Linked DNA regions of Homo sapiens: region 2 is linked to region 1. The links come from fine-mapping of genetic effects on gene expression. A gene starts in region 1. The other region holds a variant in brackets. All regions are shown on one strand. Distances are between the middles of the regions.

What was found. PIP is the estimated chance that this variant, and not a neighbour inherited with it, causes the effect.
Region 2: its variant is fine-mapped to the expression of COL4A2 in monocytes after LPS (Quach 2016, PIP 0.95).

What each region holds. Positions count from the first base shown.
Region 1 is chr13:110,302,963-110,313,993 of GRCh38, reverse strand. It overlaps COL4A2 (collagen type IV alpha 2 chain), which reads right to left and starts at 6,710. Exons shown (of 48, transcript NM_001846.4): 1 at 6,466-6,710; 2 at 6,047-6,134; 3 at 5,871-5,925. The coding sequence starts at 6,090. It overlaps COL4A1 (collagen type IV alpha 1 chain), which reads left to right and starts at 6,837. Exons shown (of 52, transcript NM_001845.6): 1 at 6,837-7,050. The coding sequence starts at 6,967. RefSeq lists enhancers at 5,415-6,247, 6,248-7,081.
Region 2 is chr13:110,497,973-110,509,003 of GRCh38, reverse strand. It overlaps COL4A2 (collagen type IV alpha 2 chain), which reads right to left. Exons shown (of 48, transcript NM_001846.4): 41 at 7,220-7,336; 42 at 5,722-5,883; 43 at 5,523-5,621; 44 at 5,011-5,157; 45 at 4,740-4,856; 46 at 2,398-2,589; 47 at 783-1,069. It overlaps COL4A2-AS1 (COL4A2 antisense RNA 1), which reads left to right and starts at 825. Exons shown (of 3, transcript NR_046583.1): 1 at 825-905; 2 at 1,253-1,357; 3 at 6,076-6,428. RefSeq lists enhancers at 403-902, 903-1,404, 5,227-6,156, 9,559-10,058. The variant T/G (reference allele first, on the strand shown) is at 5,340.

The DNA of each region.
Region 1 (11,031 bases):
AAAAAAGCATGTTGCTTCAAAAGGCAGCTTCATCCAAGGCAACAGAAGACAGTGAAGCAGAGTACTCAGGAGCCAGCCAGGAGCTCAGGAGACAGGGGAGGGGCTGGAACCCAGCACCGAGGTAGGAGCCTGCCGGGTGGACGCGGGGCACCGGGGTGGGAGCCTGCCGGGTGGACACGGGGCACTGGGGTGGGAGCCTGCCGGGTGGACGCGGGGCACCGGGGTGGGAGCCTGCCGGGTGGACACGGGGCACTGGGGTGGGAGCCTGCTGGGTGGACGCGGGGCACCGGGGTGGGAGCCTGCCGGGTGGACACGGGGCACTGGGGTGGGAGCCTGCCGGGTGGACGCGGGGCACCGGGGTGGGAGCCTGCCGGGTGGACACGGGGCACTGGGGTGGGAGCCTGCCGGGTGGACACGGGGCACTGGGGTGGGAGCCTGCCGGGTGGACGCGGGGCACCGGGGTGGGAGCCTGCCGGGTGGACGCGGGGCACCGGGGTGGGAGCCTGCCGGGTGGACGCGGGGCACCGGGGTGGGAGCCTGCCGGGTGGACGCCGGCTGCTCGCACGTCCTTTGAAATTCACTCTCTGGCCACATCAACAGGACTGGAGACACCTGTGAAGTCTCCCTAGAATTAGATGCCGCCTTCTCCTTTCAGGGGTAACCAAAATAAAAATTACCGTCCTCCGGAGCCACCAATGAAATCAAGAGCAGTGAGTCACTTAGGCCGTCACCTGTCCTGACAGGGTCTCATTAACTGAAGGGAGTGGGCACCAGAGGGAAACAGCAAGAGGGGACTATCCAGGAACTCTGCCCTTTTCCTCATCTCAACTGAGAAATGTCACATATTTACTGGATTCCAGAAGCTTCTCGACACCGTGAAGATAAAAAGTCCCATGTGGCATATTGATTTCTAAGCGATATCCTGGTGCAGGCTGGATAGATTCTATTCTGGAGCTTATCTGGAAGGGCTTTCTCATCCCCAGCATCACAGCGGAGACCCCGGCTCACCCTCACAGGTCTTAGCACACCTGCACAGGCCAGCCCTCACTGCTGACCTCTAACTTACTCATGGTATGTTGATCACCTGAGAGATCCATTCCACACAACATTCTCTTCCAGGCTCCAGAGCCAAAGCACGTAAAGTGTCTTGCCCTGAAGTCAGAACCCGGTTAGCAACAGGCTGGATTAGACTTTATGGCCTCTCAAGACTATTGTGTCATTCCTGGTCCCTGATTCACAAGCTCTATCAGCCAAGGCTGGGGGTTGCAGACATTGCCTCCTACCTTCAGCAGTGATCACACAGTAGACACCAGCAGACACAAAGCATGAGGCCAGTTTCAGAGCTTTCTCTAAAACCCTCTAATCAAAGACAAACATTCTTCTTCAGATAAAAAGAATGAGACATTCTCAAACCACTTTCTAGATGGTGATCTCTTCATTATATTATCAACACAGGGTTGAAAAGTTAAATCTCCATGGCACTCAGTTTTTCCCTTGAGTTTCTCTATTATTTAAACTACACATCCATTTTCTTTCCCTCTCCCCAGAAACACAATTAAACACAGTTCTTTGATTTTTATTATTTTAGCAAAATCTTTTTTCTATTCTAGAACCTTTTCCTCTTCACCTCTCTCTCTCTGGTTGTAAACATAGCCGCCTGGTCGTACAGAGCCTGTTTCCTCTCCTGCGCTTTTCGGTTTACCCTTCCTACCCACCTCTCCTTCTGGGATGCTGCTGACAAATCTCTGCTATTATTTATCGTGGCCAAGTCCTACAAGCCACCCATGGAGGAAGACTTTAACAGCCTCCAGAGAGCTGAGATATGCTTGTTTATCCACGAGCAGAGGAGGAACCCCGTGCTTTTCCCTTCTTCTCAGAGGGCCATGTTTTGAGCAATAGCGCTTCAGCTCCAGGAAATGCAGGAAAGAATTGTCCTTCCCGATCCTTACAGAAAGCTCTGGGCCTCGTGCGGCATGAACACCTCTCCTCCCTGTACCAAAGCCTGCGGAAAGGACTTGCCACCGCAGCTGCCGGCCTGGAGGGCAGGGAAGGCGGTGGCAGCCAACAGGAAGGTCAGGCGAATTTCCTGGGGCTGGAGCCCCGAGGACAGCCTGGAAACTAAGCGGCAGGGTGGCAGGCAGGGGCCCCGCACTGATGCCTACGTGAACCCACGTCTATTGTGGCCCCAGGTCCCGGCCAGAGGTCCTCAGGTGACCACCCAGCCGGCTGCATATTTGATCCCTCAGGCTGCTGCCAGCCTCTGGAGATAGGTGACAATGCTCAGAGCGGCTACAGTGAGTGCTTTCAAGCCTCCATGAAGGTTAGAATAGGCAGCCGAGGGGAAGTCCCTTAAACAGGCCCAGGGGATACCTCCTGGCACCCAGGCTGTGCCAGACCCTCCAAGGCGCTTCACATGCACCCACACACCTCACAGCACCCCCATCTATGAGGTGGGTGGGATGAGTAACACCTCCGTTTTGGGGGAGAGGAGAACTAGGACGCAGAGGCTTGGCGAATGTCCGCCCCAGGCGGCAGCCCCTCAGCTGCCCACCAGACTGAGAACTGCACCCCGTCACCTGCCTCAAGTCTGGGATGGGACCCCTGTGTCACACTGCCTTACACGAAGCCATTTTGTGCATCTTGGCACCACATTCAAACAAGGGCACCTTTAGAAAGGGCACCTTGGACAGCAGGGAGTGTGTCCTGAGGTGCCCACACAGATCACCTGGGTTCACACTGAGTCTAGAGCCCAGGCTGCCCCGTGGGATTTCGGCTTCCTTTCCTCCCTTTGGGAAGGGTCTTGCTTCTCTCCTTCACTTGCTGCCCCTGATCCTCACAGTGGGAGAAGCAGAGGAGGAAGGAGGGGGAGAGCCTCCTTCCTAGGAATCAGTGCCCGCTCCACTGTTAGTCCACGGTCAAGACCAAGAAGAAAGCACCCACACCCCAGGAGACTCAAAGACTGAAACTCAGGAGTGCCCTCCCGGCCACCTTTCAGGCCCTGGGAAGCTCGGTGTGGAGGAAGAGGCCTGGGTTCTAATCCGTCTCATTCAGTTACAAAGACAGGAACCTTGGGCGAGGGCTGCAAACCCTTTGTGGCTTTTCTCACCTGTAAAATGGGGGTAATAATAGTTACCTAGCTCATCAGTGTGCTTGCTTGTGAGGATTAGAAGCATTAGTACAGACAAATTGGCACACAGGAAGTGCCCAATAAGTAATCACCAAGGCTCTTCACTGCCCATCCTAGCTGCTTCCGAAACAAAACAAGCCAAAGGGCTCCCAGCGGCAGCCCTTTTTCCTGAACTGACCTACGCAGGAAAGAGTCCTTGCCACAATTAAGAAAAATCTTTAATCAATACAGTTGAAAATTGAAACATTATTTCACAAGGAACAGCCATTAAAGCCAGTGGTTACCAAGAAGTGAGTAAGTAGAAGACCAGCCCCTTGTTGAACGTAACAAACTACATGTCTCTTAACAACACATATTACTAGGTCCCTAGTAAAATGATTAAAAATATCTATTTTTTTTGGTTGAGTTAGAATCTAAAGCCCAGGAAAATAAAGTGAATTGGCAAGTAATCTCAACTGCCTCTCAACCCAATACTGTAGCTCAGTGGTTCCCAGATTCTGGTATCATGTGGGGAGGCGGAGTCCCGGACTCCACCCTGGAATGTCTGACCTGAAGGTCTGAGATGGGGCCTGACTTCTTAACAAGCCTTTCAGGGTTTAGGTCTGGGGGTCTAGGGGGCCTGCACTTTGAGAAGCTCTGCTGGGCAATCAATGTTCTTGGTGCCATCCAAAGATCAAAGAGTCAAAGAGACTGGGGGTGAGCTTGCAGCAATGATGAGGTTTTGGGGAGGCATAGAGGTGTCCTATCTGCCTTAGGGCACTTGGCCTCTGTGAAGCCGTAATTCTTCAGAGTACGGAAACTGGGGCTCTGGATTTAAGAGATTAGGGCAGAGCTATGTTTAGTAACTAGGTTTTTTTTGTTTGTTTGTTTTGTTTTTAGACAGAGTCTTGCTCCGTCGCCCAGACTGGAGAGCAGTGGTGCTATTTCGGCTTACTGCAACCTCGGCCTCCTGGGTTCAAGCAATTCTTGTGCCTCAGCCTCCTGAGTAGCTGGAATTACAGGCAAGCGCCACCAAGCCCGGCTGATTTTTTTGTATTTTAGTAGAGACAGGGTTTTACCGTGTTTCTCCCAGGGTGGTCTCGAACTCCTGAGCTCAGGCAATCCACAGGCCGCGGCCTCCCAAAGTGCTAAGATTACAGGCGTGAGCCGCCATGCCCAGGCTAATACCTAGATCTTTAGACCTAGGTGCTTGGTGGTCTTTCTACCAATTTTAGGATGAGTTCAGAAAAGAATACCTGGGACTCCCACCATCCTTAGGCATGAACATATGGAAATTATAAAAGTGGCTCTAAGGGACAAAGGGGTGCAGGTGGCAGCACAACCAAAGCACACACAGCCCGATGTGGTATTTTCTAGGGATCGCCCCCTTCTTTGAGTGTGCGTGCGTGCGCGTGCATGCATTGCTTCTGGTTCATAAATCTGAGCCAAGTCTTACATGCAGTACAGACCTGTGCATTAGAATTCACAGGGTCACTGGGCTAGTTCAAATATCTAGGTTCTGATCTTAAGTCGGGGCTGGGACGAAGAGACAGACCTGAACTGGAAGAAAACTTTGGCCTGGAGTGCTCTGGTCAAAGTCTCCGAGTCCTCCTCTTACTTCCCAAACCGAGCTTTGAACCGGAACCAACAGCAGCGGAAAAGTAAAGTTAGCAGCTCTTCCCCAAGTGGGAGTAGCTCCTCATCACTCACTGCCTTTAAAATCCTGGTTTGTTTTACATCAGGGCAGAACGATGTAAAAACAACAGAATTCAAATGAAATCATGAACACGTTTGCCCTTTGTACCTGTGTACTGCTCTGGCACAGTGCGCGCTGAGGAGGGAGGGGTCGTTCCCAGGAGGAATCCACCTGGGCCCCGGCTGCCACAGGGCAGGGCTACTCCATCGGCCACAGTAAGGAGAGGAGGGACAGCGGACATCTCGAAAGCTCCCTCCGCTTTCAGCTCCTGTCTAAACATTTGAGTCCTGCACCGAATTCACCTACCAAACCTCTTCATTTTAGCCATGGTTACATAAAGCTCAGTAAAAGTGGCTCCTACTCTTTAAACAAAACGTATAAAATGGACAAAGCCTCGCAGTGCAGTCGCCAGCTGCACCCACGGTATCGGCAGGGCTGTGCACGGCCGGCGTGGAGGGGCAGGCTCGGCGAACAGGATCCCAGTGTGGCGCCCGGAGCAGCTCTTCCAGGGCCGGAACAGGACTTGGGAGAAAACGCGGTTTTTCTGCCATTGTTCCCTCGCAATGCTTCAATTCAAACAATACTAAGGTTGTCTCGTTCGCCTCCTCGCCCCGCCCCTTTACCCAGAGACTCCCATTTAAAAACACAAAAAACCCTCAGTCCGTGACAGAGACTCCCCACCAGCTCCCGAGTTCCAGGAAAACTTTTTTCGCCCTAAGCCTGGCGTCTCACTGCCTAGTGACTGACACACTTTCCTGGCCTCTACGGCTGCAGCTTTGCCCAAAGCAACGAAAACGGTGCCTCAGGCTACATTTTAAGTTCCCAGTTCCCGTGAAAGGCCGACGCTTGCAAAACACAGGATTGACGCTGGGAACCCAAGGGGAAGGAAAGGTGGAAAGCATGATGAGGGAAGAGCAAGCTTTCTCAGAACCTTGGTGGGCAGCCTGGCGAACATCCACACGCACACACACACTCGGGAGCGCACGGACGAGCTGCCTTCTCCAAGGCCACTCAAACGTCCCAACCACTCTCGGGCGCGCAAGTCCAAGCGCGGGAGCCAGGACTTACCGCCAAGACGCTCTGGGCGAGGAACCCCACGGTCACTGTCCCCAGCAGCAGCCACCTGCATGGGAAAGGGAGGAAGAGAGACGTGAACGTGCGGGCCCGGCTTGTCAGTCCCCGAGAGTTACACCGAAGGGTCCATGCGCGCGTGACCCACGGGGACCAGGCAGAAAGTCGCTTACCGCCGTAGGGCAGGGCCGGCCACCGCGCGCTGGTCTCTCCCCATGCTGGCGGTTCGTCCACTCTGGGCCCCGGTCAGTCCCACTTAGCCTAGAGGCGACAGACAAAGCGAGTTTAGCGCAGGATGAGGGAGGCAGCCCATCCTCACCGCCGGTCTCGGTCCGCGAGACGCGGGGACAGCGCGGTGCGCGGCCCGCATGCAGGGGTGACCGGAGGGCCGTCCCCCCCACGACCCGGAAAGAAGGAGAGCCTCCCGTTAGGCCCCTGTGGGTGCTCCTTGGCCGAGGAGCTCGGTCTTCGCTCTCCCACCCTCCCCCTTTCTACTCCCAAGCAGGAGAGCGTGCAGCCCTAGCCTGCACAAGGCGCTCCAAGTCGGTGCTCTCGGGCCAGGGTCTGGGCGCCGCTCGGGGGTCGCTCTCACCTCGGGCTCGGCTTCAGGGGCTGCTGCCCGAACGCATTGGCCCTTCCAGAAGCACCCGCCGGCGGCACACCGGCAGGGCGGCCGGCCTTGCTGGGCTCTCTGGGCGCCGGCCCCGGGGGCTCGGGCGGCCCCTTTCGGTCCTCGGCCTGGATCCGCGAACGCGCGGGCGCGAGGGGTTGGGACGCGGGAGCCTCTTGAGTGCGGAGCGCGGAGCCCTGGTGTCCCGGCGCACTGCAGCCACACTCCCGGGCCGCGCGCTCCCGCCGCCTCTTACCCGCGCCGCAGGGTCCTCCCCTTTGAGGCGCCGCCCGCGCACCGCCGGGGGGGAGGGGGCAGCGCCAACAAATTGGGGAGCTCGGCCCGCCGCGCTCAGGTCTCCGCTTGGAGCCGCCGCACCCGGGACGGTGCGTAGCGCTGGAAGTCCGGCCTTCCGAGAGCTAGCTGTCCGCCGCGGCCCCCGCACGCCGGGCAGCCGTCCCTCGCCGCCTCGGGCGCGCCACCATGGGGCCCCGGCTCAGCGTCTGGCTGCTGCTGCTGCCCGCCGCCCTTCTGCTCCACGAGGAGCACAGCCGGGCCGCTGCGAAGGTGAGTTCCCGGCCAGCTCCGCTCCCGGCGTCCCGCCCCGAGCTTGGGCGCCCCGAGAGGCCCCTTTGTCCGCGCCTGGACCCGTCCGCCTGCCCCTCGGGGGTCGCGCGTGGCACGGCCAGGTGCATTCTCTGGGCCGGGGTTCGTTGGGGGTCCCTGTAGGCTACGATCGCGCATTGGTGGACCGAGCCTCCTTTGTTATGGTATGGGTACTGGAGAGTTAAGGAATTCCTCCGGGGAAGGGAGGAGAAACAGCCCGCGCTGTGGCGGGGTGAGGGTGCCTGGGAGCCGGCGGGATTTGAACCCGCGTCGCGGGTATGCTCGGCAGCTGGGCGCCTTCACCCGTCCCGGGTGCGCGAGGGAGTTGGGGGCTGGAGGGCCGGGAGCGCCCACCCCGCGCTGCTCAGAGACCCACACTGGGAGCTCCGAGCTCCTAGCCCCTGGGAGCAGCTTTGGGCGTATTTCTCCTTGTCTGGAGACCCTGGTGGCTGAGGCTGAAAAGCTCTGGGCCCTTTGCCTGGAAACAGCTGTATCTGAGCTTTCCCACGACTGCTGCCTAAGGCGCGCTCCAAGGCAGAAGTGGGGCTCTTCTGGACGCCCGGCTTGAAGAAGCCACCATCCTCAACTCGTTGCCTTCTATTAATATATATTTTAAAAAATTATAACCACATTCATATTTGAGCATGAAACCAAAGTGAAACTCCATGTCATTGTTCCATGCACAAATTGTTTTTCTAGTTTTCATTTCCTTTGGTTATGTGCTTGCCCAGAAAGGATCTGGGAGATCGGTTTGCAGGAGGTTTGCAGGAGTCGAGGCTTCCAGCCGTGGACAAGCCTGGACTGACTGTTGTTTCCTTTTTTCCTTCCCCTCCGAGAGAATAAAGACTTCAGCTGTTGCTCAGTGTCACAGCCATGCAGTCCCACAGGCCGGAAGGTGTGGCTTCTGAACAGATTTTGCAGTTTCTCCCTCAAATGCTTAAAAATGATTTTTGCTACTTACCAGATTTTCCATACTTATTCTTTTACTGTTCTTAATCTTGTTCTTTGTTTTCCTCTTTAAAAAAAAATTTTACTTCTCTCCTGGAAGAATGATACTCACTAAATCCACTTAACTGTATAGAAATTGTTAACTGTTACATGCCAGAGAGAACTGGTGATATACACACACGTCTCCTAATTGAGAGCTTATCTCCCTGGAGGCAGCTTCTCCACTGGGTATTGAAAGGACTAATGATTACATCAGCAATTAACTTCAGATTGTACCTCCCAGCCCAGTCTCCCCAAACTTCATAGCCAGTTATTTAAACACTCTTTGGTAATGATGACAAAATACTTTCCAAAGAACAGGCTTGAGAGCACTTTATTTTGGTCTAGAAATATTGACCAAAAGATTGAACGCTTCCAAGGTGAGATGGTGAAGCCTGATGATGGTAAGGTAAATCAGAGAAAGTTCTTCATTGGGAAATAGGAGCTGTTTGCATTTCGATTTTCTGATGGATAATGTTAGCAAAGCAAAGAAAGCTAACTGTAAGAGCTGGCTTTCCAAACATCCAGGACTGTAGAAAGAAAGAACCACTCAGTTACGCAAATCCTGTTCTCACCCGGGAAATCAAACGCATTAATGTTGAGTTGGAGATGATTTTACTTCCCTTTAATCATTTCCTAAAGCTCAATTACATTCCCGGCCACTGTCTTTGCAGTGTCCCTTGAGGTGCCATGGACTGTTTTTAAGAGATGCAGCCTGTGGGCACTTCTGATCACAGCTGACCTCACAGATATTATCATTACTCTGTATTTTCCCTGGCTTAATTAGAGAAAAGTGCTTAATGTGCAGATGATGTATGGGTATACAAGAAAATCACTTAAAAACTGAATCTGCCTAATTTTAAAATTTGTCTCACTTTTCATGCCATCAATAACATTTTGGCTTACCTCCTTCCAAAATCAGCTGTTAGATGTACCATAACACTGAAATAGCTTCAATACTGATCCAAGCAAAACATAATTTAAAAGCACATTTTGAATGATAAGATGCTGTGGATTTGATCAGATCCTCATTCAGAAGCCAGTGGAAGTGACTGTTGGCTTACCTCTCCTTTGCACTGTCTGAATCACACTTCACCTGCATTTGTACATCCAGACATCACCTGCTGTGTGCCAGGCATGAATTGCCCTTATTGTTTTTTCTTCATGAAAGGCTGTTTAATTTTGTATTTGCTGTATCTGCTATGGTCATATTGTTTACGTACTCATGGGTGGATTTTCTAAACCATTGATTTTATCCCACGCTGAACCTACCACTCTACTCCCCGCTCCTCCCTTCCTCCACTTTTCTTCAGCAAGAAAGGAGGAATAGCTTGCAGGCTCCAGACAAACACGTGCCAGCAGTGTTCTGATTGTGAGCACCCTCTACTCTTAGTCACTCAGTTGCACTGGGCGGAATGAACCCTTCCTGCAGCAGCTTTCACACTCCCCTCTAGCTGGTTCTGTGTGATGCTTCTTAACAGATTATTTCTCAGGATTAGAAACGTGAACTTTCCCCTCAGTGTGGTGATGCTTGTCCAGCAATACTGTCATCTCCTGACCATTAGTCACCACCTCTGGGACTGAATGACCTAGAGTTCAAACTAAGTGAGATTTCATTCCCATATAAGTATGGACCATGTTCTACTGGAAATGTAGTTTAGAAGAGAAGGCTGGTTTCTGAATCAGTCCCAACAAGAGCAGCATCGCCCAGGATCTCAGGAGTGATATTGGTGAAGCTATTCCTTATATCTGCAAGCTCTTTATATTAATAGATGGAATTGGACTAGGGTGAAGGGACATAACTTTAAGACCAACCAGAAGACACAATGTTCATGTACTCTGACTAGATTCACAGAATTATCAATGCTATATATTATTAATAGTCACGTGTACACAGGATGAGTGTGCTTTAGGCACCAGAGGACCTTACATTTTATACCTGCTTTTAAGCAGATGATTTGGGGGTACTCATCAAACTCTATACCTCAGTTTCCCTGGCAGGTCTGTCCCTTCCTCACACGGACCCGTTTGTGCCTTCCTTCATTCCACACACACATCGGGAACACCTCCTTCCTGCCATGACCTTGCCAGGTGCTGGCCATGCGGCAGGGACTCACCCCCACTCTCTGTCCTCAGGAAGGTCAGGTGAGAAATATTGGAAAAGAAACAGACGAATCCAAGTCAGGCTGGTAAATGTCACAATCAGGGGAATCGAAGGGCTATAGGAACACTGAATCCAGCTTTGGGGAACTCAGAGGAAACTTCTGGGAGGGGCTTCCGCCTCTGAAATATGAGGGAGAAATAGGAACTATACACCAGCATGTCATTTCCATGTGCACTGTGATGGTGTACTATACACAGAAGACATGGTCATTCTGCCTGTCTGCTCTCAAGTCTAAGGGTCTTTGCACTGAAAGATGACCTTCAAGTTTGCTCCTTTGAGATACCAAAATGTCATTGTTTCTGTGATTAACAATCTTGGTGGCTGAACTTTGCTCTCAGAGGGGTGGAAAGAATTGGAAGGGCAGGGTTTAGGAGACCAGTGTTAAAAAAGAGCTCCCAGCTCCAACTGAGGCCCCAGTATGTGGTCCTGTCCCTTTTCTCGGAGGTGGCAGGTAGGCAGGCAGGGGATGTTTGGAAAGTTGCGGCATGGATGACTGATTCTAGTCAGGAGTGCCTTTAGGAACTGACCCAGAAAACCTACCCTTACTTGGGCCAGGCCATGAGGGAATTCACAAAACCCTACATTATTCATTAACAAGGCTGTTGGCAAATTTCTGAGAACTGGCAAGGATGGTCATAACAAGTTCAGTTATTTAGTTAAGAGCTGGTAAAGATTTTGCAGACAAATGGAACCCACCAGTGATGATCTAAGACAAACCTTTGTAGACAGTGGAAGAACATCAAGAAGTGGCTAAATGACAACAGTGGTTTTGATGAATTCTATGATATTTG
Region 2 (11,031 bases), 200 kb before region 1:
AGATAAACCCATCATAAATTGAAAACGCACTTTCAACTTATAGTATCTTCATCTTACAATGAATTTATCGGGACGGGACCCTATTCCAAGTTGAGGAGCCTCTGCTTTAATAGGCAATATTGCAAGAGACACTATGGTGCTGTGGTCTCTCCCCTGGAGGTTAAGCTAAACCTAATCTGGCCAAAGCTGAGGGTTCTCTATTTTATACCCAAAGGCGATCCGGAAGGGTGGGCGGTGCCTTCCCAGGTCCTGGTTGTGCACCTTCTCCTGGCTTTCAAAGTATCCACAGGCTCTCTATTTTATACCCAAAGGTATTCCAGAATTTTCCTCACGAATATATATCCATTTTAAGCCAGCCAGTTAATAGGTATTTCTTCAGGGTATTCTAGGTTCCAGATAGATTCTAAATAAGATCAGGATTCTAGAGAAAAGTCTCCCATATATTTAGACTTCTGGTAAACCCAAAGCAGCTGCACCTTTGGTGTTGGTGTTGTACCTAGTAAGACGGATAACAGGCAAGTTCGTCCTGGTTACACTCCTTACAAAGGCCTGGTGGCAAATTAATGAGCCCTTTCTGGGTGGAGGAAGCCCTGTGCCCAGCATGTGGCTCAGTTAGCCAAGTGTAAGCTGTGTTCCAGCTCTCGCTCGCTTCCTGGGCCAACTACCCTTGTGCAGTGCACACCCTGGACTGCCGTGTCTGATTCTTCTCACAAAGGCAGCTGTTCTTGCTGTGTCCCCAGCAGGGTGTGGTTGGGGAGGGGAACTGGGCAAATACCACATACCATGAGGAAGGAATATCCGATCCACAAACTCCGCCACCCAGCTGGGCAGTGTGGGATGGAGACATCCTGACTGTGGACCGCGATGGCGATGGCCGGGGCCTCACACACAGAACAGCGGCTGATGTAGGGCTTGATCTCGTCCTCGGCCACGGGCATCATGGGCAGCGGCGCAGTGGTAGAGAGCCAGTAGGACTTGTCGTTCCGGCTGGCATAGTAGCAGACATCACCAGGGTTGCAGTACAGGAAGGGCATGGTGCTGAACCGCGCCAGGCAGGAGCCCGCCAGCCCTGTGGAAGGAGGGGTCATGAGATCACAGTGCAGTGTGGCTAGAAGACGCACCTGCCAGCCCCAGCCAGGCCCAGGAGGCTGTGTGTCACGGACTCGCCCCAGGGCACCTGGTGGAGTTTAGCCACCTACTGGAGGGCCAGGCTAAGGCTTCCCAATTTCTTTCTTTTTCTCTTTTTGATCAGACTCCACTGGCATTTTGGAACAGCTCTGTTCTTCTACAAGTTCTCACACATACTGGGCCAAGTTGGATCACCAGGGAGTGGCGTCTTCATGGAATAGCATTTTGGGTGAGCCTTACCTTAGTGGGGTCTTAACAGCACTGGCCCCAAGAAAACTCTGATGGCCTCCAAGGGGTCGCTCTTTGACCCCAAGGAGCCACCCCAGAAGGAGTCCTGGCCCTTCTCCCTTCCATGTAGCTTTATTGCTTCTGGAGACTAAGATAGCCTTTATCTCCTGGCCACAACGAATGCTGCAGCTAAGCAGGTTTCCCTCTTCACATGGATTGCTGAAAAGCTCAGACCCAGAAGTGCAGCCACCTTTAGCAAACATGCCCGGTGCTAGGCTGCCTCCTTGGCCCTGTTCCTAGATCTATTTTTGGCCCTTATCCTTGGCGGCCTTTGCCCCGTTGTTCTTTAGAAACTCATTGTGGAGGCGGGGCGCACAGGCAGGAATGTGAAGGCACCATGAGCCAGCAACATGCTTCCCGGGGGCAGAACGCCTGATGTAACCTGCACCGAGGAGGCAGAACACAGCCAGTATCCCAGAGACCCTTCCCGTCACCCCCTCAAAGAGGACCTCAGACTAAGCTACCTCCACTTGTAATTTGTGTGTATTGCATTTTCTGTATTCGAAGTCGCGTTAATGCCTTTCAAAGGCTTCCTTAAATAAGAGCATGCACACGTGTCCATGGGTCCATTTTCCTCGGGGGGCTGTATGGGAGAGTCTTACATGAACCCCAGCCCCTCATGGCCCCTGCCTGACTCCAAGTCTACAGAACTTGGGTCAAAAACAAGAAGGAGGTGAAGTAATTGGTGGTCTCCACTGGAGAGGGGTCGGGGGTCAGACGGGTCACATGGGAGCCTGCGGAAGTCAATACCAGGTTAAAAGGCAGGTCCCTGTGTTAAGGTCCTGAGGTTTAAGGGCTTTGTAAGGCTTCTGCTTCAAAGGCCGTTTTAATCTTTCTGCACTCGAGGAATGTAGATGGACCCTTCCGTCAGGGGAACTTACCAGCCGTGGAGGGTTTGGGAGTCTCGCTGTGGCCCTTTGATCTTGGCCACTTCCGGGCCAGCCCTGAGCAGGCAACGGGGGCCGGGTGGGAGGTACCTACCCAGGTCCTGGTTGTGCGCCTTCTCCTGGCCCTCGAAGTACAGCAGGCTGTATCCACTCCAGAGTTTGTTCATGCCCACTGGGCACATGGGCTCCTGGTCCGTCTGGCTGTGCTTCACCAGGAGGTAGCCGATGCTGACGCTGCGGCCTGGCATACCCGGCAGGCCCGGGCTCCCTGGACGGCCTGGTGCACCTGCAGCCCGAGAAAGAGAGAGAGTGGACGGCCTGGTGCACCTGCAGCCCGAGAAAGAGAGAGAGTGGACGGCCTGGTGCACCTACAGCCTGAGAGAGAGAGAGAGAGTGGACGGCCTGGTGCACCTGCAGCCCGAGAGAGAGAGAGAGAGAGAGAGTGGACGGCCTGGTGTACCTGCAGCCCGAGAGAGAGAGTGAGTGGACGGCCTGGTGCACCTGCAGCCTGAGAGAGAGAGAGAGTGGACGGCCTAGTGCACCTGCAGCCTGAGAAAGAGAGAGAGAGCAGCCCCCTTGACAGCCGCCCCACAGAAACCTCGGGACCCAGGAGTGCAGGGCAGTTTCCAGGTGCGCCTAGAACCATCGCTCTCCTTCCCCAGATCTTGGGGCTCAGTCTGTTGAGATCAGGAGACTCTTGGGAAGGATTTGATCCACACTTTGTTCTCAGTAGCATGAAATGATGGCAGTGAGGGCACTGGGCACAGAGGAGGGGTCCTTTCCATAAAAGACTCAGTCAGCCATAGGTAGGCATGTGCCCCTCAGGATGTGCCCAACGTGCCTGGCGTTGGAAGTGTCCGGAGGAGTATCGCAGGCCAGCCCCCACCCCCAGCAGTGGCCTCCCTCCGCTGGACACTTCCAGGAGACATGGCTCATCGCAGGCCATGCTGACTGCGCACTTGACCACAGCCTGGGTTAGAATGTTCTTTCTGCGTGCAGCCTCCTGTAACTCCTACCCGAGGAGCACACGGGGGTGGCTCATCTGCCTCCAGCACAGCAGCTCTGTGAATATTTCTCAGCTATCCCCAGTGACCCTTTCTCCCATTGTCCCCTCCCCTTCCAAGGGACACCCATGGTCATGGCCCTTTCTCCCAGGACACTTCCCCTCCACCATCCCTAGCTTGTCTCCTACCCTGGGCGGGCTCCCATTTGCTGGCATTTGTTTTCAGGTGCACCCCACACTACCCATAATTTGCCGGCTGCGGATCTGTCCCCAGGGGCAGGGGACTGCTATTTCCTTTGACTTGGACACCAATAGTACTACCCATGTTTAATTTTCTTTTTTTTTTTTGAGACGGAGTCTCGCTCTGTCCCCCAGGCTGGAGTGCAGTGGCGCGATCTTGGCTCATTGCAACCTCCACCTCCTGGGTTGAGGCCATTCTCCTGCCTCAGCCTCCCGAGTAGCTGGGACTACTGGCGCCCGCCACCACGCCCGGCTAATTTTTTGTATTTTTAGTAGAGACGGGGTTTCACCGTGTTAGCCAGGATGGTCTCGATCTCCTGCCCTTGTGATCCGCCCACCTCAGCCTCCCAAAGTGCTGGGATTACAGGCGTGAGCCACCGCGCCCGGCCCCTATGTTTAATTTTAATTTTAATTTTAATGCTCAGACCATTGGCTCAAACTGAGCTCAGGTTGATTAAGACAAATTTTGAGGTTTTTTTTTTTCATGAATAGCTGTTATTCCTGGCCTATTTCATTCTGTATATGTGCAAATAATTTTAAAAAATAAGACGACCAGGCACGGTGACTTACACCTGTAATCCCAGCACTTTGGGAGGCCAAGGCTGGCGGATCGCTCGAGGTCAGGAGTTCGAGACCAGCCTGGCCAACATGGTGAAACCCCGTCTCTACTACAAATACAAAAAAGTTAGCTGGGTATGGGGGCACATGCCTGTAGTCCCAACTACTTGGGAGGCTAAGACAGGAGAATCGCTTGAACCCGGGAGGCAGAAGCTGCAGTGAGCTGAGATTGCGCCACTGCACTCCAGCCTGGGTGAGACAGAGCGAGACTCTGTCCAAAAAAGAAAAAAAAGTAAGACAGGGCTTCGCAGTGCGGCTCTTGTACATTTTAATAGTCGGTTTCTTTTGGCTCCTTGTCTAATCCTGACCCTTGAAGTCTACTGATCCCTGCCGCCCACTCCACAGCACCGCAGGTGTCCCAGGAAAAGGAGGGAGGCTGTCCCAGGACTCGGGGCCAGGTGTTCTGCTGGGCATAGGAGTGTAGCTGCTACGCCCAGATTAGGAGCAGGAGGGTGGGGCAGCGCCTCATTTCTGGCTTTTCTGGGCTCTCGTGTGTCCCCTTCCTGCAGACCACAGTCTGTGAGTCAGATCCAGAGCACTAGGACCTGGGAAGGTCCTTCCCCACTGTCACTCACCTTCTTGGCCAATCGGCCCCTGGTGGCCTATGGGTCCTTCATCTCCCCGGAAGCCGGGAACAGCAGACACACCACCTCTTCCTTGGGGCCCAGCTTTCCCTGGAGCCCCACGGAAACCTGCAAGCCACCAAAGAAGCGTTATGGCTGGAAACTGACCACGCCTGGCACGGCCGGCGATCCACAAAGAGAACACAAGAGGACGCAATGCCAGCAGGCCCTGGCCTTGCCCGGGCAGCCCCGAGGGGCTCCAGGCCCCAGCTCAGCACTCTACCTGGTTCTCCGGGGGGGCCCTGGGGCCCCATCTCCCCCGGTGCCCCAGGGGGGCCTCGCCTCCCCTGGGGACCCACTGTCCCTGGTTGGACGGCAATCTTCTGGGGGATTCCTGCAATCCCGGGGGCTCCCACAGTCCCGGGGGCACCTGGAAGGGAAACAGAGAGGCCCCAGTAAACACACAAGGTCGTTCCACTCTCTTGCTCCGAGTGCTACTGCGTTTCTCACCAGGGAGGCTTCTTTTGGAGCTTCCCAGACAACTGTGCTTTCTAGAGATGAGCCAGACACTAACGGGCCTGAGCCGTGACTCAGCGCCTGCCGTTTGAATAT[T/G]AAGCTCTCCATTCCCCAAGGTCCTGTGACAACATCCGAGGCACAGCCTTGGTTTCCTCCCTGCTCTTTACAACATGTGACCCATGCCAGAGAGGATCCTGGCCGTTTGACCTCCAGGATGTCCCCAAGCCTGGAGAGGCTGGGCTGAGCCACTAGCTCTGAAGATACCAGACGGTCACTTACCAGGGAATCCTGGGTCTCCCTTGGGTCCCTTGGGGCCTCTGTCGCCCACCGCCCCAGTGGGTCCAGTGTTCCCCATGAAGCCTTGTTCACCCCTGGGCCCTGCAACACAAACAAGACGTTAGGGACACGAAAGTCTGTGGGGAGGGGGCTCCTCTCACTGTGGCCAGGGCTGCTGGCCCATGGCCATGGGCACTGTTACCTTTTTCTCCTGGGAGACCAAACACACCAGGCCTGCCCTGGGGCCCGGAGTCCCCGGCCCATCCTTTGGTCCCTGGGGTTCCTGGAGCTCCTGGGTTCCCTGTGTCACCTTTGCTTCCAGGAAGAGCAGCAGAACCTGGTGGCCCTGGTGGGCCCCGATAACCTGTTGGCATTAGGGACAAGAAAGGAGGGTTTAAACAGGGCCCCAAGGCCCCTGGGGGCAGTCAGGTGCACCGTCACCCATTCAGGCGACAGTCTCTGGCAAGTCTGTGGCATGGAATGACTTTGTCTATGTTTTTAAAAAATTGTCGTAAAATACGTAGAACATAAAAGTTACCATTTTAATCATTTTTAGGTGCACTGCTCAGTGGCATTCAATATATTCACCTTCACCGCCGACCAGCTCCAGAACTTTCTCATCCTAAACTGAAATCTGTCCCCGTTATACACGCACTCCCCGTGTCCCTCTCCCCCCAACCCTCAGCAACAGCCATTGTACTTTCTGTTTCTATGAATTTGATGACTTCAGGGGCCTCGTATGTGTGGAATCACAGAATCCGACCTTTTGTGACTGGCTTCTTTCACTCAGCAGAATGCCCTCAAGGGTCATCTAGGTGGTAGCAGGTGATAAGAGTTCCTTCTTTTTAAGACCGAATAAAGGCTGGGCAAGGTGGCTTACACCTGTCGTCTCAGCACTTTGGGAAGCCGAGGTGGGAGGATTGCTTGAGGTCAAGAGTTTGAGACCAGCCTGGCCAACATGGTGAAACCCTGTCTCTACTAAAAATACAAAAATCATCTGGGCTTGGTGGTGGACACCTGTAATCCCAGCTACTCAGGAGGCTGAGGCACAAAAATTCCTTGAACCCGGGAGGCGGAGATTGCAGCGAGCTAAGATCGTGCCACTGCACTCCAGCCTGGGCGACAGAGCAAGGCTGTCTCAAAAAACAAAAAACAAGAAAACAACCCAACAAAAAAGACGGACTCCTCTTGTACTGGGTGGATACTGACTGCATTTTGCTTCTTAATTCCTCTGTTGATGGACACTCGGGTTGCTTTCAGCACTCGGTGCTTGTGAGTAGTGCTGCTGTGAACCTTGACGCACAAACACTTGTTTGACGGGTGACTTCATCTTTACGCCATCTCTTTCCAATATTCAGCTCGTTCGTGATTAGGAAGTGCAAATTAAATTTAATACTTGTCTAAACACAATACAGTGAGGAAGAAGAAAGCCGTTCATACTGCACATTTCTGAGCCCCCTGCAGTTTGAATATCTGCTATTACAGCAAGTAAATGACATGGCCTGTGTCTCAGCTTCCCAGGGACCAGGTCGTGCAGGTGATGGAAATGACACAGGAGGAGCCATCATGGCTCCTGCCTCTTTGACCGGAGTCTGGGCACAGCGTGGAAATGAACGTCTGTTCTCCCCCTACATTAAGCGGGCCATTGCCAGCTCCTGCCCCTAGAGATGTCGAAGCACAGATGTATAAGTCCTGCTTACCTTTCAGGCCAAATATCCCTGGCGCCCCTTTGTCACCAGGTGCCCCAGAGATGTTGGAAGGGGGTGTGATACCAGGGAACCCCTGAAGTCCTGGGCTCCCAGGTGGGCCTCGTTCCCCTTAGGATGAAAACAGAAGAAATTATTTTCAGCGTTAGCACCCAACTTTTCAAATCTACTATTTTCCCTCCACACCATCACCTGTGGTGGACCAGAGCCTAGCGAGCGAGACAGTGATGGGAGGTGCCCTCAGGCCAAGGAACATCTCATGGTGGGGCTGGGGAGGCCCTCAGGGCGGGGTTGGGGGGGCAGGGGCTATGTGAACCCCTCCCCCACCCCAGCCTTTCTCCTGTGAGGAGCCCTCCACTGGGATCCTGTCTGCCTGTGCTCGACTTCCCCAAGGCGCTGCCCGATCATGCTTAGATGGAGCCTCAGCACCAGGCGAGGCACAGCTGGTCAGACTCTGATCCTGATATGTGTGGACAGTGGTCAGCACAGGTGATGGACAGAAGGTTGAAAAATTGCAAATGAGGCTTACAATTGACATCACTATTGTCAACCCTCCCTGCGGCTGTCCTCCAGTGCCTCGGATCCCAGCTTGGATAGAGTTGGTCTTCATTATTCACAGATTCTGTGTTTCCCAATTTGTCCACTCACTAAAACTCACTTGGAATCCCCCCCAAATCAACACTGGCATTCACAGATATACACAGAGGCAAAATGAGTCCCAGCTGAGATCCAGCAAGGTGACGCTCCTGCCTTCTTGCTGCAGCTCATACTGTACACACGTGTCCTTGTCTTGGTCTCTGTAGTGCCCTGTTTTCCACATTTTTGTGCTTTATGCTGGTGATTTTGCTGTTTCAAATGCCCCCCATGTATTGTGTTGAAGTGCATCCTACTGTTGGTAAGTGCAAGAAGGCTGTGAAGTCCCTTATGGAGAAACACATATGTAAGAGAAGCTGCATTCAGGCACGAGTGAGTGCATGTTGACTGTTCCTGAATCAGCAATCCACACTAAACAAGGTGCCGTTACACAGAAAACCAGCTTATATACTGATCATTGACAAACATCTTGTGAGCAGAGGCTTGCAGGAACTTAGCCTTGTATTTCCCCTAGGAGCAATGGTTCAGTATTCACTAAGTCAGTGTTCTTGGTGACTTCAGAACATAACTACTGCGAATAATGAGAACCAACAGTTTTTGGGTCAAAGGCTGGAGCTCTTTGGCACTAGTAGGAGAGTAAGAGGGAAATGGCCACATAAGGAAATCTGTGGAAATTCCACTCCTCCCTGTGCTGTCAGCCAACAAGACACTAATGGAGCTTTATGTGCTGTAGGGCAGTGGTGGGTAGAAATCAGTGTGGACTTGAGTGGGCGGATTAAGTCTACTTTCTCTCCTAAGCACCTTCAGCCTTTTGTTTTACCTCGGGCTGGGGACCAAGATTAGTATTAGAACCCTGCAAAATGTCAGAATGTCCAAGTGGGCAAGGAGGGCATCACTTCTGCTCTGCAGGAAATAGTGAGCTGGGCGAAACAGTGCAAATCTATAAAAATGAGAAAAGGTAGCAACAGTGGTTTTCTGTTTCCCCTCTGGCTTTATGACTAATCTACACGCATCAGCAGCAGGAAGAGATTTTCCCTTTGGAAGATCCTGGTATCCATTATCCATCCCAGGGGAAAGGATTCCATTCATGCGTGCTTCCAAGTAGGACAAAACAAACAGCAGGATAAATATTTAGAGAGGTGAGGCTTGTCTCACAAATCACAGACAACATGCAAGTGGGTTCATTAGCCCTGAGGGCATGAGTGAGCCACCATCTGTAGTTTGATATAAAATGACACCAATTGAACTGCTTCTAGCTATTGTCACAAAGTACCCGAAACAGATGGTGAGTGTCAGTAAATAATGGCAGACTCCTGAGTTAGATGATCCAGTGCAATCCGCAGACTGGCAGATTCCCACGAAAACATAATTAACTTAACTGCAGTGATGAGGACTGTTAATGAGAACACTTAGCAAACATGAGTCAGTTTGCTGGAATCTAGACGGAAACCGCTATGATTTCTCAGTAGCCCCCATGGATCGTCCTAAGTACTGACATAAAAGAGTCTCACTAACAGGGGTTCCGTGAAGGCCCATGTTGCATGACTCAAGGCCAAATCAGGAACTGATGCTCGAATGTCAGCTGCAGAAATAGGTGAGGTTGCAGACTCTAGCTTCAGTGAGCTGTGATACGGTTTGGCTGTGTCCCCACCCAAATCTCGACTTGTAGTTCCCAAAGTCCCTACATGTCGTAGGAGGGACCTGGTGGGAAGTAATTGAATCACGGGGGTGGCTATCCTCATGCTGTTCTCGTGATAGTGAGTTCCCAGGAGATCTGATAGTTTTATAAGGGGCCTCCCCCCACCCTTTACTCAGCACTTCTCTCTCCTGCCGCCAGTGAAGAAGGATGTGTTTGCTTCCCCTTCCGCCATGATTGTAAGTTTCCTGAGGCCTCCCCAGCCATGCAGAACTGTGAATCAATTAAACCTCTTTCCTTTATAAATTACCCAGTCTCTGGTATTTCTTCATAGCAGCATGAGAACGAACTAATACAAATGAGATGCAACTCATGCGAAGGAAGATGACGGATTCAAATTATTCCCATATTTTGAGAGAAGAGTGTGTGTCCTGAATGACATTATGATCAGTGTGTGAACGTCATCATGGAAGGTCGTCTTTCCCTCATCACTAGCCAGAGGCAGTGGCCTCATATGCCAAGGCCCAATGGCACTGGGCAGTGTCTGCCCTGGCCTCCAGGACCTGCTCTGAAGTCATCAGCTCATGGGCCCACTGTGACGTTCATGCAGGTCGAGGGTGGGGGCATGGCTTGCAAAAGTCAGCATGCCGCACGGTGGCTTGGAAGCCGGGGACACCGTCCAGGTCCCTGGGATGGAATGCAAGGAGGGCCACAGGAGGTCACGGAGAGTTTTGATAAATGGGTCCCACACAGATCAAATGTGTAATAAGGCCATCAATGTTACCTTAGGGGTGTTCTGAGCTACACGTAACTCTCCACTGATGTCAGAAAATTATCCTACAATTTCACAATATTCTTCTCCAGCAAGTATTTGTTGAGCACTTACTCAGGGACAAGCATTTTGCTGAGGTATTAAGTGGAAAATAAATGAGATAAATCTCTGTCCTTGGGGATGGAAATCTTAAATCTTTTTTGTGGTCAAGTACAGGGCCTGAACATCATGCTGTGTGAATCAAACGTTAACAATGCATGGTCATACAAAATGCTAGCAGCTGTGTTCTGTGACCCCCCTCTATGGGCCACTGTGTGCACCCTGTCGAAATCCCATCTCAGTTTCCTCCGCCCCTCCCTGTGCGGGATCTCCTCTCCACATCTCCTGGCCAAGTCTTCCCCGTTGCTGCATTCCCAGATGCCTTTCAGGTGACAGACTGGTAAACTGATCATCATGACACTCTGAAAACAACGCTATGTTTCAAGGCCTTTAAAGATAGCAAACATTTATTGCTGGCCTCCTGTGTGCAAGAGCTTTACCTGTAGTATCTCATTGTATCCTCCCAATACTCACAAGTGCATTTTTATTTTCATTTGACAGACAAAGCCAGAGACATTCAATACCATGGCCAAGGTCACATGGTGAAAATATGGTGCACGTGAGACGCAGAACAAGAACCCAACAGGTGTCTGATTTAAAGGTCACGGGCATGGTCAACTCTACTGCTGGGCTCCTGGGAGGATTATGCTGGTGGACTGACCCCAGATCCTCACCCCTGACTGAGGCTGTGCTGGTGGACTGACC